Homo sapiens: one gene and its partner. The protein of the gene in region 1 interacts with the protein of each later gene in a pairwise test. Each region holds a gene or a part of one and is shown in the gene's direction. Other genes may lie near its edges.

What was found. Proteins that work in one complex are often made in the same cells at the same time.
Region 2: the proteins of MEF2B (region 1) and CABIN1 interact in binary tests that used the Homo sapiens proteins (3 or more experiments, as listed by UniProt).

The regions. Positions count from the first base shown.
Region 1 is NC_000019.10:19,167,253-19,174,976, reverse strand, and holds the start of MEF2B (myocyte-specific enhancer factor 2B), read left to right. Parts: upstream 1-4,713; 5' UTR 4,714-4,772; intron 4,773-7,724. UniProt on the Homo sapiens protein: Transcriptional activator which binds specifically to the MEF2 element, 5'-YTA[AT](4)TAR-3', found in numerous muscle-specific genes. Activates transcription via this element. May be involved in muscle-specific and/or growth factor-related transcription.
Region 2 is NC_000022.11:24,161,304-24,168,327, forward strand, and holds part of CABIN1 (calcineurin-binding protein cabin-1), read left to right. Parts: intron 1-3,096; coding exon 3,097-3,260; intron 3,261-4,226; coding exon 4,227-4,323; intron 4,324-5,335; coding exon 5,336-6,010; intron 6,011-7,024. UniProt on the Homo sapiens protein: May be required for replication-independent chromatin assembly. May serve as a negative regulator of T-cell receptor (TCR) signaling via inhibition of calcineurin. Inhibition of activated calcineurin is dependent on both PKC and calcium signals.

The DNA.
Region 1 (7,724 bases):
TACTGGCCAGGCGCGGGGGCTCACACCTGTAATCCCAGCGCTTTCGGAGGCCGAGGTGGGCGGATCACTTGACGTCAGGAGTTGGAGACCAGCCTGGCCAACATGATGAAACCTCGTCTCTACTGAAAATACAAAAATTAGCTGGGTGTGGTGCATGCCTGTAATCCCCAGCTACTCTGGAGGCTGAGGCAGGAGAATCGCTTGAGCCCGGGAGGTGGAGGTTGCAGTGAGCCGAGATCACGCCACTGCACTCCAGCGTGGGCGACAGAGGTAGACTCCATTTCAAAAAACACCCAGCTGGGCATGGTGGGTCACGCCTGTAATCCCAGCACTTTGGGAGCCCGAGGCGGGTGGATTACGAGGTCAGGAGATTGAGACCGTCGTGGCCAACATGGTGAAACCCCATCTCTACTAAAAATACAAAAATTAGCTGGCTGTGGTGAGCACCTGTAATCCTAGCTACTCGGGAGGCTGAGGCAGCAGAATGACTTGAACCCGGGAGGTGGAGATTGCAGTGAGCCGAGATTGCGCCACTGCACTCCAGCCTGGCGACAGAGCCAGACTCCGTCTCAAAAAAAAAAAAAAAAAAAATTTAACTCCCGGCAGAACTCCAGAGATAGGCAGCTAGAAGAGAGACAGTGAGCTCTCCGTGCCATGGGGCATCCAAACAGAAGCATAGTGCTCACGAGGCTGGAGATCACCCAGAAAGGATCCCAACCCTGATCTGCAGATGGGGTAAAAGGAGACCCATACAGGGCAGCGACCTGCCCCCTGCTCCGTCCACAGTGGTCAGGACAAGAATCAGACTTCCGCTGGGTTTTTGTCCTTAGCCATTGGTGTGAGTCCTGGTTTTTATTTCAGACCTACTCCTCTGGGTTCCCGGAGAGTCCTGCACACTCAGGCCCCTGGAAAGCCTTTTTTTTTTTTTTTCTTTTCCCTACAGTATCCCTGAACAAGGCTTCTGGGTGCCCCAGGCTTATCCCCCACTCCCTTTCACTGCTTAGACCTTCTTTGAGATTCTCCAGTTCTTCAAGAAACCCATGGAGGCTGTGCGCAATGGCTCATATCCATAATCCTAGCTCTTTTGGAGGCCAAGGCAGGAGGATCGCTTAAGCCCAGGAGTTCGAGACCAGCCTGGGCAACAAGCGAGACACCCAGTGCACCTCAAAAAAAAATTTAAAAATTAGCCAGGTGTGGTAGTGCATTCCTATAGTCCCAGCTACTTGGTAGATGGAAGCGAGAGGATCACTTGAGCCCAGGAGTTCAAGGCTGCAGTGAGCCATGATTGTACCACTGCACTCCAGCCTGGGCAACAGAGCAACTCTGTCTCTAAAAAATGAAAAGAAAGAAACCCGTGGAGACACCCCTTTGGTGCCACCATGCACTGGGCCCGGGCCCAAGGAACCCCCAGGCTGGGGGACACAGAACCAGCCACATACTCTACCCCGCCCCCTGGATCAGTGCTAAGCTGGAAGGAAGGGTGGGGAGGTGGAAGGATCCTAAGTGGTAAGAGGATAGGAAGGCTTTTGGAGGAGGGAACATTGGAGGTGGGCCTTAAGGGCTCCTATTATCCCCACTTCTTCTTTTTTTTTTTTTTTTTTTCTTTTTTGAGACAGAGTCTTGCTCTTGTCACCCAGGCTGGAGTACAGTGGCGTGATCTTGGCTCACTGCAACCTCCACCTCCCGGGTTCAAGCAATTCTCCTGCCTCAGCCTCCTGAGTAGCTGGGATTACAGGTGTGTGCCACCATGCCTGGCTTTTTTTTTTTTCTTTTTTTTTTCGAGACAGAGTCTCGCTCTGTCGCCCAGGTTGGAGTGCAGTGGCACGATCTTGGCTCACTGCAAGCTCCGCCTCCCAGGTTCACGCCATTCTCCTGCCTCAGCCTCCCGAGTAGCTGGGACTACAGGCGCCTGCCACCACGCCTGGCTAATTTTTTGTATTTTCAGTAGAGACGGGGTTTCACCGTGTTAGTGAGGATGGTCTCGATCTCCTGACCTCGGGATCCACCCACCTCGGCCTCCCAAAGTGCTGGGATTACAGGCGTGAGCCACCGCGCCCAGCCTATCCACACTTCTCATATGAGCAAAGAGGCCCCAAGGGGTGCAGTGACCATCCTGAGGTCACACAGTGAGTGGGCGGCACAGCTGGGATGGGGACTCAGGGTTCTTTAACCTCAGGGCCCTCCCTACCTACTGGGTCACACATCCTTATCATGGAAGGTCCTTCAAAGCCTTCTCCTGGGAGAGGGGAGAGAATCTGGAGGAGGGAGACAGCGGGGGCAGCTTCTCCACCTCCCCCAGCCTCCCACCCTAGCCTTCTCCTCCATCCCCCACCCACCACCTCCCCCATCTCCCAGACCTGCTTCCCAGGTCACTCTTCTCCCTCACCACCCACTCTGGACCCTTCTATCCCTTCCTCCTCACAACCTTCCCTTCTACCTTCCAACCTCTTACTCTAGCAACTAAGGGTGTCCCTTCATCTGAGAAGAATGAGGTTAAGACTCTTGGTGGCCCTGCTAGGGGACACAATTAGTGGTTGGGGAAGGTATAGGATAGGAACAGAGGCAAAAGGACACGGGACAGACCATGAATAACAAGATGGTGCCCACCAGAAGGAGGGGGCTGGGGAGTTGGGGTGCATAAGGGCCAGCCCCAGCCAGCTTCGCTCTGCTGGGCTAGCCCTTCCCCCAGAGCTGGCCCAGCTGCCGGCCTCACGTAACCAGAGCCTGCCTGTTGCATCAGAGGTGGGCGGGTGGCCTCCGGTAAACAGAGCAGCCCTCCGGGGGCCCAGGGCTCCCCAGCCACCTCCACACTCCCCAAGCCTTGTTCTGCACCATGGAGTGGAGGCAGAAGCCCCCAGCCTGGCCCAGGCCCTGGCATGTCCTTGGGGCACCCCAGTGTATGGCACTGGGCACTGGATGGGGACAGGAGGGACCCACTGATGACACAGTATGAACTCTATAGTTTTCATGTCCAAAGAGAAAGTTGTGCTCAGACTAGAGGCCCACACTGCCCATGTCACAGACGGGTAAACTGAGGTGTGGGGAGAGACACAAGCCTCCCAGGCCCCCTGTTCCCTGTCTCAGTGTCCCCCACACTCCAGCATCTGCCACATGCCTCCCCCTGAGTTTGGGGGACCAGCCCCTCTCTTCTCTGGAGGAGATGGACACCAGGCAGCTTTGCAGCCCCATTGCTCTCCACCTGTATCTGCCCCTCCTCTTCACCCCCTGCCCGCTATACTGGCTTCACCTTCCTCATCTTCCCCGGCCAGAGAATGTTCTATGCTCTTCCTCTGCACTTTTGCAAGTGCTTTTCCCTCTTGAAAAAGCCCTTCTCGGGTCTTGTGTAGTGGCTCACACCTGTAATCTCAGCACCTTGGGAGGCCGAGGAGGAAGGATCTCTTAAGCCCAGGAGTTTGGGACCAGCCTGGGCAACATAGTGAGACATCCTCTCTTAAAAAAAACAAAATTAGCTGGACCTGGTGGTGGCCTGCCTGTAGTCCCAGCTGCTGGGGAGGCTAAGTTGGGAGGATTGCTTGAGCCTAGGAGGTCGAGGCTGCAGTGAGCTATGATCATGCCACTGCACTCCAGCCTGGGCAACACAGTGAGATCCTGCCTTGAAGAAAAAAACAAGAAAAACCTTTCTCCTAGTGGCAAACTCCTACACATACTTGAAAGCCCAGCACAAATGCCCTCTCTTCTGAGAAACCCTCCCTGACTCCTCTGGCACAGCCCTTGCCCCAATTCTGGCCTGTCCCAGCCTCCCATCCCTCCTCTGGCCCAAGCCTGACCCCACAGGGTTAGGGGAGTGCATGGATCCCCTGCCTGCCCCAGACGGGCCGGGGGCTTCTCCAGAAGTGCCCATCCCAGAGCCATCTTTATCCTGTAATTCTTTTCACATTGATACATTCACCAACCCCTGCTCTGATCTTCCTGTGGGTCTGGCCTGTGCTGGGATCCCAGGGGAAGGGGTGGATTTAGAGTTCTGGGCTGGGGTCCAATCCTGGAAGGCCCCTCACAGCTGACCTTTGAAGTTTAGAAAACAGCCTTTAGCGGGGAGAGGTAAGGAGAGGGAAGTGGTTGGTGGAAGCAGTGTGGTTGTCTTGGACTGTGGAGGGGCAGGCGGTGCGGGCTTGAGGGACCAGTAGCTGCGGAGGGTCTGTCACTCCCTGTGGGAGCACATATCTGGCCCCAGGAGGCACAGTTGAGTGAGGCCACACAGGCCACCCGAGAGCCCCGTCTTGCAGTCTTTCCATTCTAGCGAGCGCGAGGGTCAGCGTTGCCTGCGAGAAGGGCTTGGTTCCTCGGGGCGACGGGGTCCGGGATCGGAGTCTATTTCACTCAGGATGGAATCAATCCAGGCAAGTTGGGCCGAGTTAGGAAAAGGTTTAGAATTAGGGTTAGGGTCACAGTAGGGTCAGGGGTCGGCAGTAAGGTCAAGGGCGCCCAGTGAGGGCGGGGAAAGCCTGGCCAGTCTGATCCAGCCCCCTCCCTCCGTTCTGCTTCTTCCTTATCCGCGCCCCCACCCATGGCGCCCCAGCATCCTTTCGCGTCTGAGTCCCAGGCCCATGAACTCCCGGGTCGGGGCCACGCCCAAGTGCACGCCCATCGCCGCCTCCAGGGTGACGCCCTGTATGCAAATAAGCCCGTCCCGCCCAATCAGCTCCCGGGGGCAGGACCGCCCGCTCCCAAGGCACCTGCGGCCGCGGGCCCCTGATCTTCGTGCAGCCGCCGCGGGTCCGTGCGCCCAGCGTCCCAGGGCCCAGGCCGAGCAGGTGCGTGTCATATCGGGTTGAGACTCCTGTGGTGTCCTCTGAACGGCTTCTGCGGGCTGGGTGGGTTTTGGAGGTCCGGGTGTACTGCTGGGCGTCCCAGGGTGGGGTGTGTGTCTAAAGGGGTGTGTGTCGTGGGGTGGTGAGTCCCCGAGGTTGTGGCAGGAGGGGGTTGTGTCTCCAAGGGGTGTGTGTCTGAAGGGTGTGGGTCTGGAAGTTGTGTGTCCAAGGGCTCTGCGTCTGAGATTTGGTGTGAGTTGGGGAGTTGGAGAGTTAGCTGTGTGTCCAAAATCATGGTGCTGTGAGGCCCTATTATGTGTCTGTGAGCTCTGTGATGTGGCATGTGATGTCCCTCTCTCCTGGTGTGCACTCCTTTAGCATTAGCGCATCCCCTGTGCACAACCCTATGCCTTCTTGCTGTGGGTGTACACTCGTTTGTCACAGCAGGATGGTAGGCACAAAACCTTGGAACGGGGGAGCAACAGCTGCCGGGGCCAACTCTCCTCCCTTTGCCTCAATGGGTACAGGAACAAGAGTCACATCCCCGTGTGGTTGTTAGCACATGACAAGGTGGTGGCAGCATTACTTTCACGGTCACAGTCCTCCCTCCCTATCTCTTTTGGGGTCCAGGGCTGCAGATATGGGTGACCTGTGTCCTTGGCCACCCTAACCCCTAGTTGCAGACCCAATTAGTCAGAAATAGCTGGCCGGGCACTGTGGCTCATGCCTGTAATCCCAGCACTTTGGAGGCTGAGGCAGGAGGATCACTTGAGCCCAGTAGTTTGAGACCAGCCTGGGCAACATAGTGAGACCCCCATTTTCTTTTTCTTTTCTTTTCTTTCTTTGTTTTTTTTTTGAGACAGGGTCTCATCCTGTCGCCCAGGCTGGAGTACAGTGGTGATCTTTGTTCACTGCAACCTCCAGCTCCCAGGCTCAAACAATTCTCCTCCCTCAGCCTTCTAAGTAGCTGGGATTACAGGCGCGTGCCACTACCGCCTGGCTAGTTTTTGTATTTTTAGTAGAGATGGGCTTTCACCATGTTGGCCAGGCTGGTCTTGAACTCCAGACCTCAAATGATTCACCTGCCTCAACCTCCCAAAGTGCTGGGATTACAGGCGTGAGCCCCTGCACCTGGCTTTAAAAAAAAATTTTTTTTGAGACAGAGTCTCACTCTGTCACCCAGGCTGGAGCGCAGTGGCTCAATCTTGGCTCACTGCAACCTCTGCCTCCCAGGTTCAAGTGATTGATTTTCTGCCTCAGCCTCCCGAGTATCTGGGACTACAAGCGTGTGCCACCATGACCAGCTAATTTTTGCATTTTTTGTAGAGACGTTGTTTCACCATGTTTGCCAGGCTGGTCTCATGTGATCTGCCTGCCTCAGCCTCCCAAAGTGCTAGGATTACAAGAGTAAGCCACCGCATCTGGCCAAAAAAAATTGTTTTTTTAATTAGGCAGGTGTGGTGGCTTATGTGTATAGTCCCAGCTACTCGGGAGGCTGAGGCAGGAGGATCACTTGATCCGAGGAGTTCGAGTCTGCAGTGAGCTATGACTGAGCTACTGCACTGCAGCCTGGGTGACAGAGCAAGATCCTGTCTCTAAAAGAAAAACAAAAAGAAAGAAAAGAAACAAAAAAATGGCCAGGCGCGGTGGCTCACACCTGTAATCCAAGCACTTTGGGAGGCTGAGGCGGGCGGATCACCTGAGGTCAGGAGTTCGAGACCAGCCTGACCAACATGGAGAAACCCCATCTCTACTAAAAATACAAAATTAGCCGGCCATGATGGTACATGCTTGTAATCCCAGCGACTCAGGAGGCTGAGGCAGGAGAATCGCTTGAACCCAGGAGGCGGAGGTTGTGGTGAGCGAAGATCGTGTCATTGCACTCCAGCCTGGGCAACAAGAGTGAAACTCCATCTCAAAAAAAAAAAAAAAAAAAAAAGAAGAAAGAAACAAAACAATAATCAAGGCCTCAGGCTAGCCTGGCCAAGAATCATCCCTGGGGAAGGGCAGGGCCCCTGGACCTTGGGCATTCGGGACAAGAACTCTCAGACTCTTGGAGTGAAGGAAACTGGATACAAAAAAGTATTTCGACTTCGGAGAACCAGTGTGTGAGGACTGATTTCCAGAGATGAAAAGGGCTTTCTAAAAAGGCAGGCTTGTTCCCTCATGTCCCCTTCCTGTTGTTCAGTAAAGGGGGAAGCTTGGCCTCCAGCAAACAGAATTTCAGGACAGTTAGGATCTTGGGATGTCATCTTAGAGAGCAGGAAGCTGGTTTGCAGGAGGGAAGGCTGAGGCCAGGTAGTAACACTAGGCCCCTCAAAAAAGGATGGAGCTCAAGGCCATGCCTCAGTCCCCCAAGAGAACAGAGGCTGGGGTCACGAGGCCCAGCTTCCTCTCCCTCCTCTCTGTGTGACCCCCCAACAGGTGGCTGCCCCTCTCTGAACTTTGTGGCAGCTCCTGTGAGCGGAGCAAGCTGAACCCACTCTTGGCTTTCCCATCCCAACGAATGATTTATTTGGTTAAACTATGACCCAACCAGGTGGACATCTGGAAAATGCAAATTAAGAAGAGAAGGGGAATTTAAAACATTTGCTCACCCCAACTTGGGTGCAGTGAGTGTAGACATGTTGGGTGTTTGGCCTTCTGGAAGAGGTTTCTTTCTTTCTTTCTTTCTTTCTTTGTTTTTGAGACAGCATCTTGCTCTGTTGCCCAGGCTAGAGTAAAGTGGTGTGATCTCAGCTCACTGCAACCTCTGCCTCCTGGGCTCAAGTGATCCTCCTGCCTCAGCCTCCTGAGGAGCTAGGAATACGCGCTCACACCAGCACACCCAGCTAATTTTTTTTTTTTTTTTTTTTTTGAGACAGAGTCTCACTCTGTTGCCCAGGCTGGAGTGCAGTGGCACAATCTCGGCTCACTGCAACCTCCACCTCCCAGGTTCAAGCGATTCTTCTGCCT
Region 2 (7,024 bases), on another chromosome or scaffold:
GCCCTCAACTCTATAAGCAAGCATTATCCCAGCCACTGTGGCCATCAGGGAACCCAGCCCTGGTGACACCAGGGCCCAGGAATCAAGTGGGGCAAATCTGAAGACAGCAAGTGTGCCTGTGGAACTGGGAGAGGCGAGGCAAGGGGTACGGCCAGAGCAGCGGGACCCAGGGCTGAGGGAGAACTAGGAGAGGGCCAGAGGAGACCCTCCTCGCGGCGACCCTGCTTCTCTCAGCTGCTACTTATGGCCCCTGCCCATCTATGATCCTGCCTCTGCCTTTCCCTCAGATGCCGTGGGGGTGTTGGCCTGGTGCTGGCTCCCTCCACCTGCCCTCAGCCAGGCCTCTTGGTCACTGCTGCCTATGCCCTTCTTTTCTGGCCCTGACTTAGCTTTATCCAAGCTCACCCCTGGCACATTCTCCACACCCTCCCTGAGGCCCGAACGTGAGTCCCTGGGCTGAATGCAGTGGGGCTTCTGCTGTGGCAGTTGGAACCTGGCCATGCCCCTTCCTCCTGTGTGGGCCGTGGTGAGGAAAACCAGGTGAAGCAGGGGCTGTCCCTTGTACCTGTCCCACTCCAGGAGACCCTCCTCAGCACCTTGGTTCTCTAGGAGCTTCATAGCCCTCCACAGGCCCGGTGTTAGAGGGACAGTGGAGGGAGAGGGCTGCTGTGGCTACTGCCCCTCTGTGGGGAACCGCTGTGTCCAGGTCATCCTGGGGCTGCCAGTATCATCCTTCTCATGGGTCTCTTGCTGCAAACACAGAAGCCCAGCTCCACCTGGTGTAGGCAGAAAGCCAGTTGGCTTGCTACCACCCTGCTGGCTCGTGACTCTGCCTGGTGGCTTCACTCTTCAGACCAGCTTTCTCTGGAGGCCAGCCTCATGGCCATAGGAAGTCCCCTCACCGTTCGGGAGGTATGTCCATCTGCACACCGCCCCAGGCCACAGAGAAGAGGGGTTATTCCTAAAGGCTCTCATTAGGAGGGGAAGCCTGACTGGGATCCTGGGGCCCATCTGCTGGCTGAATTCCCATGGCTGGTGGTGGGTCTTAGGCCTGGCCGAGCAGGCAAGGGGGCCAATCCTGGGGGCAGGGAAAGGACAAGCCCACAACAGAAGGGGCTTCTGGGAATAGTGCCCAGTGCAAGGTAAATAAACATAGGAGCCCCCATACTGGGGCATGTGAATGAAGATACAGTAAAGAGATGAACAAGGGCACACTAGCTGGCCTGACCCTGCCCGGGAAACGTGCCCTTCAGCACACTGTTACCAGAAAAAGGCCAAGCAAGATGCCAGAATGAAACCAGAGCACATGCAAATGTAAAATGCTGCCTTTCAAGCCTCTCAGGGCTGGCTGGGGAAGTTTTGAGAGTCACAATAGCATGGGGGTGGCCAAGCGGGCGGCGGTGTCTATGGTTCCCTTCTGATTTTCCATGGACTCACTGCCTGATTTGTTTGGTCTTCCATCCTTTCTGAAATCAGCAGTGTTATGTTACAAAAGGAAACGGAAAGGAGATAGGGATCCAAACTGTGCTGGTGTGTGTGATGCAAACTAGACCCGTCCTCACGGGTGTGTCTGTTGGTGTCTATGTGCCCTGGGAGGTGCAGGGATGGGAGGGTCTTCAGCGGGACGTACTGCTGCAGCACAGCGGATGGAGACCCAGGAGACAGTGTCTGCCCATTCTGGTGCCTACTGTAGATAGACCCTGTCTGTTGGAAAGCAGGTGTCTTTTCATAAGCTGCTTCAGGATCCACATCTGCATGGTAGGAAGATGCAGCATTGATGTTTGCTGCCCTGGATGTGGATAGCCTCAGTACCCTGGTTTTGTCCTTTTCAGGCACTGCCAGGAAGTAGAAGGTGGCTGCTGGCCTCCACATAGTCCCCCAGCCTGCAGGTGGACCCTCCATGTCACAACAGGAGCCAGTGTAGAGGCCACAGGGTCTCAAGGCTGCGAGTTTTAAACTCCTCTCAGGCCTTAACAGCTCAGGGCTGGAGGTGCCCTGGCTTTCCTCCCAGGGCTGCTAGAGCAGGGTGGGCCCACACCTGTGTACAGATACTGTGGATAATCAGCAAGGACCCACAGGGACAGGGCCCTGAGAGGGGTACCACCTAGACATCCTGCAGTGGTCCCTGTAGCTGGGGGCCCAAGTCCCCAGAATCCTATACTGCAGCATGATGTGGGCCAGGCCCCATGCCAAGGAGAAAGCAATGTCACTCATAACCTTGGTCCATTCTGGGCAGCAGTTTCTTCAGCGTGTTGGCTGCAGGGACCCATCTAGGAGCCAGTTCACTTATTCCAGGCCCCTGAGGTCCCACCCCAGAGATGGGCCTCCTTAATGCCTGTTTCCTCATCACTCACTCCCTGCTTTCCCCACACCCTGCCTGGACCCCGAGTAGGTGTCAGATGCCATGCTGGTCACTAGGACACTGCAGGGAACCAGGCCCTGGAGCTAGTGATAGGTAGGGGGTGCCCAGTGCTGCAGCAGGTAAAGCAAGGACCAAGGGAGATAATGGGGGGTGCTCCCCAAAGTCAACTTTGCCCTGGTTAAGCCTTCAAAGAGGAGTGGGGTAGGATGGCAAGAAGTGGGAAGAGGGAGGGGGACCCCAGGCATCCCAGGAGCTGCAGATGATTCTCTGGGCACTGCTGGAGAGAGTGGGTGAGGGCAGAGCCTAGCCAGAGCTTCCCTGCAGCCTGCTTTGACTCAGCAGTTCCACCTCTAACAAATGGTCTGGTGGCTGGGTAAGCACCTGTGCAGGGAGGTGTACACACTGGGCCTCTCACTGTCTGTCCTCACGTTTGATCAGGCCCCACCTGAGTGCATCCCATAGGGGACAGGTCCAGCAAACATATGAGATGCAGCCATACAAAAGAGGAGGCTGCAGAGCAGTGGGTCTGTCTGTCATTTGCTGCCACTCATGAGAAGGAAGGGGGTGGGGATACACTTCTGTCTCCTTGGGACAGTGAGAGGGGTCCAAGAAGCCCCTGGCTGGGCAGTGTCCCCTTTGGCACTGTGGCAGTTTCCAGGGGATACCAGACAGGGTGTCCCCGAGGCTCCTGCCACAACCACCCCCCTCACACACCTGTGCCATCCATCCCACAGGGCATCTGGCGGATCCCCGTGGACGAGATTGACCGGCCGGGCAGCTTTGCCTGGCACATGAACCGCTCCATCGTGCTGCTGCTCAAGGTGCTGGCCCAGCTGCGGGACCACAGCACCCTGCTGAAGGTGTCCTCCATGCTTCAGCGGACCCCAGACCAGGGCAAGTGAGTGCAGCCACCCTGGACACAGCCTGGCATGCTGTGTGGGTCAGGGGCACACACACCCCAGGAAGCCTCTCCACTGCTCTGGCCCAGCTGTGAGGACCACTGGCTGGGAGCCTGGACCAGCTCTTCATTCTCCTTGGGGGCCTCTCTGTCCCAGTGTCTAGAACCTAAACAACACTTCCCACCCCCAGGCACCCTAGGGCAGACACAGCCTGTCCCCACTGATCCTGGTTCCACGTTGAGACTCTGGACTACCCAGCCTTTCCTTTCCTCCTGCTTCCCCCAACTCAGGGCTCTCGGGGTGCTGTCAGGTTGTAGGGAAAACAGATGTTCAGAAGATAGCTGTGGTTCCCCAGACAAAGGCCAGTAACAGTGGGGTGAGCGACAGGGGTGCCTGGGCCTCAGTGGTAAACAGGGAGCTCTCCGCCAGAAAGGGCAGGACAGATAACAGAGCCATCTGTTACAGCTGCCATTTACAGGGGGTGTTGGGGGGATCCTGGAAGAGACGCAGCTCAGATGTAGATGGGCCTGGCCTGGAGGCCTCACTCCGTCAGCTGGACTGGGCCTCCTCCCATGCCTGCACTGTCTCACCCTCTGGCTGTCTCACTCACCTACCACTTGCCAGGCGATGTGCCAGGAGTTCAGGGGCCTCCAGCTGGGGCCTGGGGCACCCTGGAGCCAGACCTGAGGGAGCAGCTATAGGCTGCTGAGCACAGCACACAGGGTGGGCCCACTGCAGAGGGCCTAAGGGCAACAGGCTGGTGCCGGGTCAGAGGCCTACTGGCTCTGGATAGAGGGAGCTCAGGGGAAGCTTCTAGGGGAGCAGCCCCAAACAGGTGGTTAGGTGGAACACTGAGGAACAAACAGGCATCCTCAAGGCAGGGATGGGCAGTGGCCACCATCCAGCAGTGCCATGTGGTGTCAGATGCCCTCCTGTCCTCTCTGACTACCCCTGTATGACCGCAGGAAGTATCTGCGAGATGCTGACCGCCAGGTCCTGGCGCAGCGGGCCTTCATCCTCACTGTGAAGGTGCTCGAAGACACGCTGAGCGAGCTCGCAGAGGTATGCCACCTGTGTCCTCCTCTCCTCCACGGCCCATGAACACGCTTCCAAGCCCTTCCCAGGTGGTGGGCCCGATCCCTCTATTTGCATACCCTTAGGCAGGATGTGCCTAAGGGTCCCCATCTGTGAGGTAGCACCCATCCTGTCTTCCTAGGCAGGGAAGGTCAGCCGTGGTAATGAATGCACATGAATTCAGTGAGTCATGGATGCACTTGGTGATTAGTAAGAGCCATAGTGACTCCATGAAACTGAGCTCCCCAAGGGCTGCACCACCCAGGGCGGGGTCCCAAGCCCTCTCCCTGGCAGGCTGACCAAGGCCTATGAGAACACCATGTGTGTGCATCGTCCCTTTTCAGCCTTGAGGCAGGTGCAGCAGTACCTCCTTCTCACAGCTGAGCACCTGGAGGAGGCCAGGGAGGTTAAGCAGCCAGCCTACGAGGTGGGGCTGTTGGGAGTTGAGCCAGGACTGCCTCCAAAGCTTATGCCTGGTAGGGCTGGCTGTGGCTTGGTAGAGGGCATCAACTTGAGGCTGTTGGGGAGGAGTCCTTGCCAGCCCCCAACCCCAGGCCTCGTGCATTAAGGGCCAGGAAGACTTGGCTCTGCAGCAAACATGCTTGGTGGCCCTGGGCAGGTCCCCTCCCATAAAATGCCCAGAGCTGCCCGGAGTTCACGTCATGGAGTCAAAGGGGAGCTGGGCAATGCTGCCCCAGCTCAGCCCAGGCCTGTTATTCAGGAGCAGTGCCACCTCCAGAGTCCCGTCAGCCCCTTGCTACCTGGAAGAGTGTGGTGGGGTAGCCAGAGGTGCAGAGGAGGGAAGGCCTTTCTCAGGCAGGTCTCTGGGCCCAGTGTCCTTCTCTGATAACTGAAACACAGCCCTGGCCAGCTGGCAGATGTCCGGAGCCACACAGATGTCAGGTGGGAGAGGCCCAGGTTGGGCTCACCAGCCCCCAGAGGTGACTCATTGCAGTGGAGACACCAGCGACACAGCTTCTTACCTTTGGTTTCTTTGTAGGGGTCAGAACGCCCAGGGCCCAAGGTCTGTGGCCTCCCCGGAGCCAGGATGACCACCGATGTCTCACACAAGGCCAGTCCTGAGGATGGCCAGGAGGGCCTCCCCCAGCCGAAGAAGCCCCCTCTGGCTGATGGCTCAGGGCCAGGGCCCGAGCCAGGAGGCAAAGTGGGCCTCCTCAACCACCGGCCTGTGGCCATGGATGCAGGAGACAGTGCAGACCAAAGCGGGGAGCGGAAGGATAAAGAGAGCCCACGGGCAGGGCCCACTGAGCCCATGGACACGAGTGAGGCCACTGTTTGCCACTCAGACTTGGAGCGGACACCACCCCTGCTGCCAGGTCGCCCCGCAAGGGACCGGGGCCCCGAGAGCCGGCCCACTGAGCTGTCCCTGGAGGAGCTGAGCATCAGTGCCCGGCAGCAGCCCACCCCGCTCACCCCAGCCCAGCCAGCCCCCGCCCCCGCCCCCGCCACCACCACAGGGACCAGGGCAGGGGGCCACCCGGAGGAGCCGCTCTCCCGGCTCAGCCGCAAGAGGAAGCTCCTGGAGGACACAGAGTCAGGCAAGACACTTCTGTTGGATGCCTACCGTGTGTGGCAGCAGGGCCAGAAGGGTGTGGCCTATGACCTGGGCCGTGTGGAGAGGATCATGTCGGAGACCTACATGCTCATCAAGCAGGTGGGTGGCAGGCAGAGGCCTGGGGGCACTAGTCTGCTGGCAGCATCCCCACTCTTGCCTTTCTATCCTCAAGGAGGGTCTCCCAGGCCTGCCCTTGGGGCGGGTTTTAGGTGTTGTTCCCACACCATCCCTGCTGTTCACTTTCTGCAATGAGCTTTAAAAAGTCAATATTCAACCTGGAAGGAAGTGAGAGCCCGTCACAGAAACCTTATCACAACCAGCGCGGGGAGTCTGGACCGCTGCTCCCACCGCTGCGCTGGGCCTCTGGGTACATCTTAGGGCATTTCCTTCAAGACTTCTGTGGCTGTCATCTAAAGATGGCTGCAGTGACCAGAGATCCCCTTGTCATTTTGCCTTCTTTTTTTAAACATTTTATTTTAATGTATCAAGCACTTTCCTTTTTCTCCATTTAAAATTATTCCCATAGGAAGAATCTCCAAAACTTTAGTGACTGGTTCAGATGGGATGACCATCCCTGACATACAGTATTCCCTCTAATCATGTCAGTTTGCAATGCATCCTACCCCCAACTGCCCCATATCATATGGACCTTGGGCACTGAATCCCTAGACACACTTGACACAGCATGGGGCTATCACCATCAGGCCTGGGATTCCGAAAGGCCTCTCCCACTCTAATCATGGCCCTCCATCCTGCCCACTTAAAGGGCAGGTTCTAGCTCAGAAGACTCCCCTCTTCCCCTAGCAACTGAGCCTCAGCTGAATTTGAAGGCTTGGTTGGAGCCCTTGAGTCTGCCTGCCAGCCTCAGCTTGTGAGGATGTAAGTAACTCAGCCATAGAAATGAACTTGGTATAGCCAGATGGGCTCAGAGGAACAGCTGGGTCCAATTCTGGCACCAGTACCTGGTGGTGTGGCACCTGAGCAGGCACCCCCACCTGGGAGATGGATGGGCATCTGCCCCTGCTACCCACGAAGAGCTGGGACGTAGGGGTCTAGATGCGGACAGCAGTGGGGACGGCTGGCTATTCAGCAGAGTCTGGGGTGTTGGGGGGC